2 separate regions of the Homo sapiens genome follow, and region 2 is linked to region 1. A link means that fine-mapping ties the variant in region 1 to the expression of a gene that starts in the linked region. Tissue or cell type: esophagus muscle. Region 1 holds a variant in brackets; the other region holds the start of a gene. All regions are shown on one strand. Distances are between the middles of the regions.

Region 1 (7,295 bases):
TATTTTAATATTCTTTACAACATAAGCGCACTCTCAATACACACACACATACACACACAACTTTTCAGGAAACCAATCCTAGGTTATAAGATGGTTTTGGATTCATTCATGCTTTTAGAATAGATAATATTTTGTGAAAATAAAAAAATTCTCTACTTCCCAAGACTCAGCCCTTCTTCTTTCACAAACAGTTTGTGGCCTAGCCCTATAATATAATAAAACATTTTAACAATTTAGTGCCTAAAATTGTGTGGTATTAATGAAGAAAACAGCTCAATAGAAAAGAATATGTAATCCAGAAATAGGCTATGGAATATTGGGAAGTTGGTAAGCATAGGCATACAGATTTAAAAAAAACAATCAAACAAAAAACAACAAGAAAAGAATATTGAGAAGGCAAGAAGAAAGGAAACAAGGGTGAACAAGACCAGTTACTGCCCTCAAAAGCTTATAGTTAAGTGGAAAGAACACTGACCCAAGAGTCGGGAGACCTGAGTTCTAGCACCTACTCTGCCACAACTCAATGTGTGACCTTGACCAAGTCATGTCTCATTCTGGGCAGGCCTATTTCCACCTGTCAAACAGAACTACTGTACTGTACTTGATTACTTATAATGGCCCCTCCAACTGTAACATTTAATGATCTGTATTTTTAAAGCCCTATAAGTCCATTGAGTCAACCATAACCCTGCTCCTATAAAAGACTGCATTCCAATGGATTAATATTATTAATTCAAGCCTCTTATTCTTTGGCTCCACAAAGAATGCTTTCTTCTATAGTATGCATTGCTAGAAAACAGCTGCATGCATATTTGCATTTTGGGGTGATGGCCTACCTTTCAAGCCATGTTTCAGACAGTGCTCCATCACCACAAAGAATTGCTGGAGAGGTGCATAGTCAGAGTCAAGAGTCCTCCCCAGGTTCAGAGCTGATTCAATCAAGCCCTTGATACTCAGCTTGGCCATGTTCATGAGGTTCATGCGTTCATTAGCCATGAGATAATTAGGATCTGCAGCCAAAGGGGAAGAAGATGAAGGCTGGTTACTAGAAATAGCACATTTTAAAATTCAGTATTAGTTGTATTCTTCTCCACCATGTACTCACTGTGAAAAAAAATGCCAGTTTCCTTTAAGAATATCCTCAATGAAGCAGTAAAATGAACTATTTTATCAAATCTCAAGCCTTGAGTAGTCTTTTCTTTCTTTTTTTCTTTGAGACAGGGTCTTGCTCTGTTGCCCAAACTGGAATGCAGTGGCATGATCATAGCTCACTGTAGCCTCAACCTTCTGGGCTCAAGTAACCCTTCTGTCTCTGCCTCCCAAGTAGCTGGAACTATAGGCGCACGCCATCACACTGGCTAATTTTTGTATTTTCTGTAGAGACATGGTCTCACTTTGTTGCCCAGGCTGGTCTTGAGCTCTTGAGCTGAAGCGATATTCCCACTTCGACCTCCCAGAGTGTTGGGATAATACGCGTGAGCCACCATGCCTGGCTGAGTAGTCTTTTAATAGTCTCACCACCACCTCTGCTATCACCCTAACCTAAGCATCTGTCATAACTCCCTACTGTACTACCTTCACACTGCTCTCTCTGCTTCCATTCTTGCCTACCCCTCTTTTCTCTGCATAATTTGTGAAGTGCTCTAAAAATAAAGCCCCAATGTAGGAAAAAAAGGGTAAAGGGCTTAAACAAACTTTGCATTATGGTATTTTATTATTCTTTAAACTATGCACTAGCATTATTAGTATAATGCAGTACTAGAACTTAATCAACTCCCACATTTTTAAGTCTTAGCATACAGTGTATGGCTCTCATCAACCAGATGGATAAACTATTTGGGGAAAGGGGCTAAGTGACACATTTTATTGTACTCATTACCTTCATTTATTGGTGCTTACACTGTGCCAGCACTGTGGGCTACCTCTTACAATTATGATCTCCATCTCTCCTTACAACATGCTGTGAGACAGTCACCAATACAACAATTTTACAGGGAAGGAAAATGAGACTTAGAGAGTAAAGCTTCAGCTGCTCTGCCCTGACTCACTGTATGACCTCGGGCAAGTCACCATCCCATTTTAGGTCAATCAAATAGTTGCAGCCGGCCCATGGGCACAGACAATAATAAATGACAGAGCCAGAGGCCAGACTCCTCCTGACCATTCTTTTACATGATTATTTTACCTACTTATTCTCTCATCATATTTAGGTATTCTCCCTTCTTTCCGGTGCTAAAGCAGGCCCATAATAGCTAGGTGGTCCAAGGTGTAACAGTTTATAAGTGGCAGAATCTGGACCTGGATCTGACGTGAAAGCTAATGCTCTCTTTACCTTATGCCATGTATATCCTCCCAAACACCAAATATACCAAATTTGTACTGAAAACTAAAGAAGGCCTAGAGCTCTATGATGTATTCCATTTCTTCTTAGGAAGACTAAAAATACTAATAAGGCTATGCTTCCATAATACAAATAAGCCACTTAGCAAAAAACAGACTGTTTAATGCAAATTATCCCAAGCAATTTTCTTCATACAAGGTTTTTATTTATATCTGCTTTCAAAGTTAAATGAGCAGAGTCAAATGGTCAAATTCCAAATTAATCTTCTCATTAAGTTTAAGGACTTACGGATTTGCAATTCCAACTATATAAATCTTGGTTTGTTGTTATGTTGTCTGAGGTTACTTTTGGAGAAACACTTTATGTGAGAGTCAGAATTGGTATATATCACCATTAATTCTTTCTTGCATAACAACAAATGTTTTAGGGCCATAGTTTAAATGTGGCCATAGCTTAAATGTAGATCAACTTGTCAAGGGTAGTATTCTCACAAGAGGACAGCAAAATACATGGAAAACTATGCCCTGAAAGACAGCCATGAAGAAAACTATCAGATATTAATTTCCATTTATTACCAGCATGTATGTACATTCTAGTGTTTCTGACCTCCTATAATTACTCAAAAAAAAAAAATAGAGCTGGGGTGTGGGTATGAATATGTGTAGAGGGCTACTAGCCTTCCCACCTGACACCTCCCAATAGATGGCAGGAGACTATGGTTGGTACTAGATAACTGCCTGCCCATAACTTTGAGGCATTCACTCTGCCTCAAGCCTGTAGACCATTAATTCAGGAACTTATAACAAGATTAAACAATGCTGCTAGTCAAAGTTTACAAGCTGATTCCAACGTAGTGAGAACTAGTCATGTGGTGAGAGATAGACTTGGGTTAAGTAAAAAATATCATATTGAGACATTTTTCCAGAAGTAGTGATAGATTTATACCAACCCATCTACATTTTCTCATCTT[G/C]TTCTTCTTATAATCTGCAGCAGAAATGTTTAAGACATCTGGCTGAGGTCTGGAGTGCATGAACTACAGACAGGTTAACTAGCGTCTATGGGAATTAAATTTCTGATATCATGGACTCCATTAGTAAGGTGCTACAATCTATTTAAACTAACTTCCATCAAACATAAACAACCTACCCATTCTTTAAAAAACACTACTCTCAACCTTGGCACTGTTGACATTTTAAGCTAGATAATTCATTTTTATGGGGCTCTGTTCTGAAAACTAATTTTCACAGCAACCCAGTAGTGGGTAACACTAGATGTCAGTAGCACTGACAACTGTTTTTGGTGGGTTAAGACAACCAAAAATGTCTCCAGACACTGCCAAATATTCTTTGGGAGATTAAATCAGGTCCTTCCACATTGAGAACTACTAATCTAAACAAATGAAAGTGAAACAAAAATCTGTTATAGTAATTTGATTGTTAGAGATAAGAGCTTAAAAGTAACAATTCACTCAGAATGGCTATTACTAACAAGACAAAAAATAAAAAATGCTGGTGTGGATGCAGAAAAAAGGGAATTCTTATACACTGTTGGTGGGAATGTCAATTAGTATAGCCTTTATGGAAAACTGTACGGAGGTTCCTCAAAAAACTAAAAGTAGAACTACCATATGATTCAGCAATCCCACTACCAGATATTTATCCAAAGGAAAGGAAATCGATATAACAAAGAGATAGCTGCATTCCCATGTTTAATTCAGCACTATTCACAATAACCAAGATATGAAATCAACCTAAGTGTCATCAACATGAATAAAGAAATGTGGTATACACACACACACACACACACACACACACATACACACACACACACAAATTCAGCCATAAAAAGAATGAAATCCTATGATTCATGGCAACATGGATGAGCCTAAAGGACATTATGTTAAGTGAAATAAGTCTGGGACAGAAAGATAAATACCACATGTTCTCACTCATATGTGGAAGCTAAAAAAGTTGAGCTCATAGAAGTAGAGAGTAGAATTGTGATTATTAGAAAATGAAAAGAGTATGGAGGAGGGGAAGATAGGGAGAGGTTGGTTAACAGATGCAAAGCTACAACTAGATAAGATGAGTAAGTTCTAGTGTTCTGTAGCATTGTATGGTGACTATAGTCAATAATTTTCTTTTTTTTTTTTGAGACAGAGTCTTGCTGTCGCCCAGGCTGGAGTGCAGTGGCACGATCTCGGCTCACTGCAAGCTCCGCCTCCCGGGTTCATGTCATTCTCCTGCCTCGGCCTCCCGAGTAGCTGGGACTACAGGCACCCACACCACGCTGGGCTAATTTTTTGTATTTTTAGTAGAGATGGGGTTCCACTGTGTTAACCAGGATGGTCTTGATCTCCTGACCTCGTGATCTACCTGCCTCGGCCTCCCACAAGTGCTGGGATTACAGGTGTGAGCCACCACGCCTGGCAATAATTTTTTTTTTTTTATATTTTCAAATAGCTAGAAGAGAGGATTTTGAATATTCCCAAAATTAATAAATAAGTGTTTGAGGCAAGAGATATGCTAATTACCCTGATTTGATCATTACATTGTATACATGAGCCAAAATGTCAGTCTGTATCCCTAAATATGTATAATTATTACACATCAAAAATTTTAAAAAGAATATATTGCTCATTGTAAATGAACACAAAAGCTAAAATGAGTATTATTTAATTCTTATTATTAACATTTTTGTGCTGAATAGTATACAAAAGTATGGCTATTTAGTCTTGCTATGTTGCTCAAACTGGTCTTGAACTCCTGGCCTCAAGCCATCCTCCCATGTTGGCCTCCCGAAGTGCTGGGATTAAAGGTATAAGCCACTACACCTGGCCTACAAATAATGTTGGCTGCTAATAATGAATATTAAATCATTAACCTGATTTGTCACAGAATATTTTCTATTCAACATTACTTGTCTTAAATACTATTCAAGTGTAAAATGATTTTGCAAAACTAACCTATCCTGTTAAAAAGGGCTGCAATGACCTGACAGAGTATGGAGGGGCTTCTGAGGGCAGGTGAATTTCTGTTTGTTGGTATGGGTGTTTATTATGCAAGCATGTTGTGTGTGTAACATTGTACTGAGCTGAATACTTATAATATAGGATTCTTTTCTGTGTATTTTGTACTTTTAACTATATAAAGTAAAAAAAGATTCTGTTATATTGTATAAGCCAGAAAGCCATTTTAAAACATGCATGACTTTCATGATATCATCAGTCAAGCTTTTCCTATGAGAAAAATGATTTAAAATTTTAAAATGTTCACAACACTGGCATTTAACACTATCATTCCAATAGAGAACTTTCATGCAATTATTTTTTTCAATACATATTGAACATCTACTATGTGTTAGATATTGTTTTAATGCTAGAAATACAGAGGTAATAATAGACTTAGTCCCTGCCATCAAAGTGCTTACTATTTATCGCAGTTGGTTAATACAAACTTATAGAGAACAAATAGGGCAGTGTACAGCAAACACCTGAAATTTCAGGATAAACATAATCATATTTAACAAAGATCAATTTTATTCCAGGACAAATATTTTATTTTATTTTAATTTTTTAATTTTTCAGATGGAGTTTCACTCTTGTTGCCCAGGCTGGAGTGCAATGGCGCGATCTTGGCTCACTGCAACCTCGTCTTCCTGGGTTCAAGTGATTTTCCTGTCTCAGCCTCCCAAGTATCTGGGATTACAGGCATGTGCCACCACGTGCGGCTAGTTTTGTATTTTTAGTAGAGACAGGGTCTCACCATATTGGTCAGGCTGGTCTCAAACTCCTGACCTCAGGTGATCCACCTGCCTCGGCCTCCCAAAGTGCTGGGATTACAGGCATGAACCACCGCGCCCGGCCCAGAACAAATAATTTTAAATGTTCCATTTGTTTTGTTTTGATTTTTGAGGCAGGATCTTGCTCTATCACCCAGGCTGGAGTGCAGTGGCACGATCACAACTCACTGTAGTCCCAATCTCCCAGGCTCAAGTGATTCTCCCATCTCAGCCTCCTGAGTACCTGGGATAATAAACAGGTGTGTGCAACCATGCCCGGCTAATTTTTTTTTTATTTTTTGTAGAGACAGGGTCTCCCTATGTTGCCCAGCTGGTCCCAAACTCCTAAGATCAAGTGATCCTCTCACCTCAGCCTCCCAAAGTAATGAGATTACAGGCATGGGTCGCCATGCCCAGCTAATTAAAAAAATTTTTTTTTTGTTAAATGACATAAACCTATTCTATGGAAATGTTAGTTTTCTACATTTCTTAAAACTAAGATAATTGATGTCATTAATTTAGGGTTTCAGGCAGGCTGTAAGCATAATACAATTTCCTCTGACATTGGGTGCACTTCTGTGGAGAAGACTGAGAAGTACTGCAACTACACTGCAGTAAGAACTCCAACAATGGTATATACAGGATACCAGGGGAATATGCATAGGAGAAAGGTATCTGACCTGGCTCCCTATTTTTCCTTCAATTTTAGGGGCCCCGTGTGTTTCTATAAATCCTCAGAGGATGAGACTTTTGAGTTCAATCTTAAAGGATAAAAAGAAAGGAGTCACGTAAGGAAGGGGTAGCAGTAGAGATGTGAAGGGAACAGGATGGAAGGAATAGCTTAGGTAAAGGTACAGAAGTATGGAAGAACATAACATACACAGAAGAAAAACAACACTGAAAAAATGCCAGGGGTTTAAGTATTAGAGATGAGACAAGAGAAAGAGACAAGGGCAGACTGCTAAGGACCTTGTTTAAGGAGTACAGATTTCACCTTAAAGTCAGTGAAGACTTTAACGTGGGATGTGATGTCACAAATTTGAATTTTAGAGAAGCCATTCTTGCATCCTTTTGGAAGATGATTGGAAGGGTGCATGAACTCAAAGCTGAGGGGCAAGTAAGGGTCTACTGCAATGGCAGAGGAAAATAAATAATAAAGGGTAGAACTAGAGCA
Region 2 (7,295 bases), 38 kb after region 1:
TTTGGGTGGTCAGATGTTTTTCCCTCTGTGAATCAGCCCGGAAAGCAGTCTGAATACTCCCGCGTCCAGACATCAGGAGTTCCATTTTGTGAACAAGGTGAGATTCACATAATCATGGGCCTGGTGACCACCACTTAAATGCTTATAGCTAAATTAAATCTAATAACTATCAGTGGTATTAACATAAAAGTGGGTATTTCTTGGGACCAAATGACTGTTTAAATATCCAGAGTTTGGTAATGGAGCAAGGCAGTAATACTCACAGGCTTTCATGGGACTATGCTTTCTTTATTTTCATTTCTAGTAATTTAAAATAATAGCTTTCTTGCCCAATTTAAGGCAAAATTCTAAAATGCACTGTCGGCATTTCTCTATTTTCTTCCAAATCCTCTATAGTTGATTACAGGTCTTGGAAACTCTGTATTTATCTGATTTCTTTAATCAGCAGACATACAATTTATTACTTAGATTATAGCTCTCACACATTTTCCATACTGAGAAATGTGTTGCTACAGATTTCTCTATGAAGAATTCAAATGGCGCTGCTAAAAACGCTTACATGAACCAAACAGCTCACTTTTGCTTATCCATAGGAATCCTGCTCCAAAAACATATATTTGAGGTGTTAAAATTGTTAAAAATTATTTTTGAGACACTGGTAAACTAGATTTCATGATAAAGGGAATATTTCATATTGTATAACTCTCAAATTGGACGGGAATACATTTTTTTCAAACAAAATATGTAAACTGAGGCAGTTGCCAGAAGACTTCTTGGTAGCCTTCTAAAACTGTATTTTTCTTCCCTAAAGACTTTTAAAGCTTTGGAGGCTGTTTTAAGTAGTACTGGAATTGTTGGATGTAACGATGTTTTGATGAAAATATAGAATAAAATAATAATAAAAAATAAATAGTACTGGCATTGCATGGAATTTCAGCTGATGTCTTATAACTTGTGCACATAACGAAACATACAGCCAAAGAAAGCTGTCTAATTAACAAACCAATTGTTAAAAGATGCAAAGGGTCTTAAAAACCACTTAAACATTGTTCTTAAAGACACACCCAAAATGACTGCTTTGTGTTCTGTGTTATTAACCATCCCTAAAACTTTCTCAAGGCTAAGGCTGACTGGGAAGATAAAATGCTTATCAAACACAATGGGAAAATTCTGAGTCATGATAAGATTTCAACTCAAGGTCAAAGGCAGAGAATCACCTTTCCTAACCCCATCTGCTAGGTACAATTCACCTATGGTCTTCTTTGTCCTGTCGATGTGCCTAACTATCAGGCAGATGTTTATAAAGAATTTCTCCTCATATGCAAGCGTTTTTTGTTTTTTTTCATCAGTATAAGGACAGAGAATAAACCTTAGCTAAGAAGCAACTGTATTAAAAACAAAACGATTTGTAGCTATGATTCAAATCAGCTCTCTTTCTGTGGTATTAAGAGAATTAAAGGGTAGAAGCAGAAAACCTCTCATAAATTAGCAAGAGTCCTGGAAAAAAGTCGCAAGTCAAGAGACCACAAAGATCTCAGAGGTACTGACAGTGGAAATCTCAAATGGATCATAATAGTTACCACAAATAATTTATAAAAAGCAATGGCCAATAGATTCCAATATTACCATTCTATTGTAATCTATAGGGATGCCATATTAATCATATTTAACCTTTCCAGGCATTATGCTTTCTTAGGAGTCCATATTCAATAAATAAATGCTGAAAAGTTATTTTCTCATCTAACCTAATAATCCATATTGTTAAAAAAATGTTTTATCAAACATTTCCTAGATGTCATAACTTGCTTAAAATTGTATCCTCATATAATGGTGAGGATACCATTACCAAATACCCTGGTGTTTCTACTGTATTCATCATGTACAATCCTATAATTATAGTCATGTTGTCTTAACTTAGTGTTATAAATCACTACAATTTCTATAACATTTTCATATATGAACAAAATTAATAGCTTTCTCATTATTGAATAGAATCAGATGTGATAAGTGACCTCAAATGTTTTATTTAGAGGCTTAAAGACAAAGAACTCTAAACGAGTATCCAGCATCTTTTGAAAGGATACCTAAAGGGGCAAGAAAAAAAATTATCTTTCCCCCATGAGCAAGAGAAGGGGAGCTGGGTGGTAAGTAAGGATGCAAGGTTTTCAGGACTGTTAACAGTTGAGAGTGTAGGTTCTTTCTACCTCTCCCTGATCCTCCCAGCCCTCCCCCATAACAATGAGGATGCTGGTGAAATACTAGCGGACAGGATCTGACCATACCTTCATGGGTAGGCTCTGGGTCAGGTGTAAGTGAGATGTCATCCAGCTCTCGCAGGCAGAGCCATTCTCCATCCATGGACACTCGGAATTTGCAAAGGTAGATGGTCTCCATGGCAGCCTGTGTGATCTTGTCAGTGGTGGGGGTTGGCATATCGGTCGGAGGCGTCAGAGCAGACATGATGACTCAGCTGGGACCACAACACACACACAGACACACACACACTCACACACACACACCAAAAAAATAAATACAACCTCCTCACCAAAAAAACCCAATACAAAGCTCTGAAACAAAGCTTTCAGGAAAAGGGTGGGGGAGGTTTAAAAAAAAAAAAAAGGAAAAATACCTTATAGGTTAAGAACAAACTGCTCAAGATAAACAATTCTACACTATCTTATAGACAGTTCCTACCACATAGCAAAATAAGATGATGCTTGTCTTCTCCCAGCTTCCTCTCCTTTTATCTTCCCTTCCCTGCCCCCCACCTTTTTTTTCAGCTGAGCTATAGGCTTTAAATCCCGCACAGCTGATGCTGCCTTAGCTGGCTTTAAAAATCTGGCCTCGATATGAGTAAGTGAAAAATCCTCCTCCTTTGTGCAGAAAAAAAATATAAAAGAAAAACCTGAACAAAAAATAAACCTATATTTTCAATGTAGCTTAAAAAAAAAATCCTGAGCTGCAGAAATCACTTCCAGGATCTGCTCAGATGAGCTGGGATGCTGAGTTCTCATAGGATTGGCCGTGCGCAGTAAGCAGGGTGTTGACCAAAATGGCTGACTAATGAACTGAACTGAAAATTCAGGCTCATGTGACCAGCTGCTCTGAACGTAGGGCAAGCAATTCCCAGGATGCTTTATAGATGCTGCTGATGCTGGGAGAGCAATTAGGCTTCTCTCTCTCATCCTGTACAACCCACTTCCAGACTGTGCTAGTCAAACTGTGATCAGACATAACACAATGCACATATCCTCATCAATTCTTCTTACTTTGGGATCAAGGACTGAATAAAAGGATGACAATTAATACCGGATAATAATCTATAGTAAAGATGGTAAAAGAGGCAGTTAGATTAATTTAACAAGCATATAATTCACCTCTTTCATTCTTATCTACATAGCTATTAAAATTCTTTACTATGCTAAATGTTATGTTTTAAGAAAAGCTAAAGCATAAAAAATTGAGGTTCTCAGAGGGAAAAAAAACAAAAAGATAAAAAGAAAAGCTAAAGTAGATTTTCAATTTAAATATCTTATTCTTGGGCATTTATAATTTCCTTCTCCAAGGTACAAAAACCTGACCTTTTAGGTTAGGCAGAAATGCAAAAAAAAAACTTCAAGTTAAAAAAGTAAAATCTTTCCCAATTAATGGCAATTTCCCCCCTTTTTGATTTTGTTGTATTTATCAAGTTTCTGTATTAAGCATAAAATACGTTTCTTTTTTTTTCTTTTTTCTTTTTTGAGACAGAGTCTTGCTCTGTAGCCCAGGCTGGAGTGCAGTGGCGTGATCTCAGCTCCCAGGTCCAAGCAATTCTCTGCCTCAGCCTCCCGAGTAGCTGGGATTACAGGCACCCACCACCACGCCCAGCTAATTTTTGTATTTTTAGTAGAGACGGGGTTTCACCATCTTGGCCAGGCTGGTCTTGAACTTCTGACCTCATGATCCTCCCACCTCAGCCTCCCAAAGTGCTGGGATTACAGGCGTGAGCCACCATGCCCAGCCTTAAGCATGAAATATGTTTCTAAGCAGATTAAACCATGTTATATTTTTAAAATCCTCCCATTCGATAAGATACTGAAGACAATTATATTTTCTTAATACACACACACACACACACACACACACACACACACACACACACACACGGCCCTATATTATCCAATGAGGCATTTATACCTTGGTAGCAAAAGGGCAGGTACTTGCTTTATGAACTACATAAATTACAAAGAGAAGAATAAGAATTTTCTTTGAAAATGTTTTGGACAATTGAAAGAAAGTGTTTGTTTGTTTTTGTATTGAAGGGTTCCAATTTTAAGGAGGAACATACAAATTCAAGAAATATGACCTGAGACTATTCCTTTCTAGGGATTGTTATCAGAGGGACATCTTGATTTACCTAATTTCTGAAAACTAAAAAAATTCTCCTTGAATATTGTTAAAATCTCAAATGCTTCATCATAATTTGAGACTGAACTGAAAGAAAAAAATGCTAATAATCAAATTCTGTAGAGAAACTGGCATTTTCATATTGTTACGAAGACAGGGCGGATGGCTGGGCGCGGTGGCTCATGCCTATAATACCAGCACTTTGGGAGGCCAAGGCGGGCAAATCACCTGAGGTCAGGAGTTCGAGACCAGCCTGGCCAACATGGTGAAACCTCATCTCTACTAAAAATACAAAAATTAGTCAGATGTGGTGGCATGTGCCTGTAATCCCAGCACTTTGGGAGGCTGAGGCAGGTGAATGGCTTGAGCTCAGGAGTTTGAAACCAGCCTGGGCAACATGGCAAAACTCCATCTCTACAAAAACAAAAATTAGCAAGGTATGGTTGCGCGCACATGTGGTCCTAGCTACTTGGGAGACTGAGGTGGAAGAATCACGTGAGGCCAGGAGGCAGAGGCTGCAGTGAGCCGAGATCATACCACTGCACTCTACCCTGTCTCAAAATAAAAAAAAGAAGGAGGGTATACTGGTACAATGTAAGAAGGCATATATATAGGCTTATTTATAATTGGGGAAAATCAGTAAGTTACTAAGGAAAGCAAAATACTCCTGGTTTTATTTCTATCTCATTCTCTCTCATCATTACCCTACATCTAGACTCAGAGCCATTCATTCATTCATTCATTCAACAGATATTCACTAAGAGGTGCTCCACATGCCAGGTAGTGATCCAGGCACTAGGCACGCAGCAGTAAGACAGAAACACCTTTTCCAGGAAACAGAATTTTCATATCCAAATACTGAACACAAGCCTTCATTTAACACATTCTCATTTAATTCAGTTCAATTCCTTTCTAGCCAAAAATATTCCCATATTATATATTAATAAGGGGACAGTTTATAGATTCACTTTATATCATGCAATACTTCAAAACATAGTAAGTAGTCATTAAAACCTTCAAATTACATGGGACATTCCTGGAACCACAACTCCAAACAGCCCTAGCTATCTGTATGTGTGATATCAAAACTCTAGATCACTGATATGTTCTTAAAACAGAACAAGGAATACATGAATAAATCCGAATGCCATGTGATTGTCTGGGGTCCAAAACCTGAATTTGGCCTTGTCACAAACCACAACAATCTCTTCACCCCAGTAAGCATTTACTAACTTGAACAGATCTAGATTGATTGCAACATACCAACACAACAGGAACATCAAGGTTAGTGAGCAAGAAACTTGATTAACATTCCTTCGGAAGATCCATCCCACCCTGCCTCTCTCCAGGTAGAGGACACAGAGAGGCAAGCCCAAAACAACTAAAGTTTTTGGCAAGGAAAGAAAAACATGCCTGTATTGGTATCCTTGAATTTCCCAGATCTACCAGTTTGAGGTGTTGGCAGCCATTTCAGAAATAAGACCCGGGGGTGGGCAAGAAAAACTGTACTTCTACGCTGTTCTTTAGGTAAACACCATTGAGTCTTCAGCACGAACAGTTATCCATTGTTCACAGGCAAAGAAGTTACTATGAAAACAGTGCTATTTGTAGAAACTTATAAAAACAATTCTACGGCCGGGCACGGTGGCTCATGCCTGTCATCCCAGTACTGTGGGAGGCTGAGGCAGGCGGGTCACCTGAAGTCGGGAGTTCAAGACCAGCCTGACCAACATGGAGAAACGCCATCTTTACTAAAAATACAAAATTAGCTGGGCGTGGTGGCACATGCCTGTAATCTGCTACTCTGGAGGCTGAGGCAGGAGAATCGCTTGAACCTGGGAGGCGGGGGTTGCAGTGAGGTGAGATTGCACCACTGCACTCCAGCCTGTGAAACTCCGTCTCAAAGAAAAAAAAAAAAGATTTTAGATATTGCTTAGTACCGTTTTTACATTTTGGTCTTTACTAAGTAAACATCTTAGCTTTGAATATGAAGTTAAAGTTAAGCCATCAGTAAGATATTCAAACCTTGATTTTTTTTCTCACATACAGAGTAATTACTGTATGAGCTGTATTGAACTATTTTCTCATTTGATCCCATTTGTGAGTAATGGCACCTATTTGTAAGATGGTTGTGAGGCGGGTGGGAGTTCAGTCTGTGGCCCTAAAAGAATAGGCCTGTGTGAAGTTCAAATCCAAAATGAAGATCCAAAAAATACTACGTTCTAGCTGCTTAAACAGTCTGTATTTTCCACATTATGATGGATTCAAAGCAAATAAGAGTCACACTTCAAAGTCAGAAGTTACATTCCTCTTAAAGGATATTTGTACTCGGCTGCTACTATAAGACAAAGGTTAACTTGACAGGCTCAATGTCTCTGTTATATATTGTGGAAAAATTACCTAAAATAGCTATCATTTATTAAATTTCTATTTTCTGTTAGGTGCTTTACAAATGCCATGTAAAGGGCTGGGTGCGGTGGCTCACGCCTGTAATCCCAGCACTTTGGGAGGCCGAGGCAGGTAGATCACGAGGTCAGGAGATTGAGACCATCCTGGCTAACACGGTGAAACCCCGTCTCTACTAAAAATACAAAAAAATTAGCTGGGCATGGTGGTGGGTGCCTGTAATCCCAGCTACTCAGGAGGCTGAGGCAGGAGAATGGCGTGAACCCGGGAGGCGGAGGTTGCAGTAAGCCAAGATCGCGCCACTGCACTCCAGCCTGGGCAACAGTGTAAGACTCTGTCTCAAAAAAAAAAAAAAAAAAAAAAAAAAATACCATGTCAAGTCTTCACAAAAGCACTGCAAAACAGAGATTGATACCTTCTCTTTATACACAATGAAACCAAAGTTCAGCCACGTAACTGGCCCAGAATCACACAATTAGCGAGTAGCAGATCTGTTACTCCAA

Which allele goes with the higher level. Alleles are on the strand shown, and positions count from the first base shown. SD is a standard deviation of normalised expression in the study named.
As copies of G replace C in region 1, the expression in esophagus muscle of the gene that starts at base 3,070 in region 2 goes up (moderate effect, 0.57 SD a copy in GTEx).

What was found. PIP is the estimated chance that this variant, and not a neighbour inherited with it, causes the effect.
Region 2: RUFY3 starts here. The variant in region 1 is fine-mapped to the expression of RUFY3 in esophagus muscle (GTEx, PIP 0.94).

The regions. Positions count from the first base shown.
Region 1 is chr4:70,756,234-70,763,528 of GRCh38, reverse strand. It overlaps RUFY3 (RUN and FYVE domain containing 3), which reads right to left. Exons shown (of 18, transcript NM_001037442.4): 2 at 837-1,010. Among named protein-coding and RNA genes, the nearest start is that of RUFY3, 38 kb to the right of the region's middle. The variant G/C (reference allele first, on the strand shown) is at 3,312.
Region 2 is chr4:70,717,739-70,725,033 of GRCh38, reverse strand. RUFY3 (RUN and FYVE domain containing 3) reads right to left here and starts at 3,070. Exons shown (of 18, transcript NM_001037442.4): 1 at 2,283-3,070. The coding sequence starts at 2,460.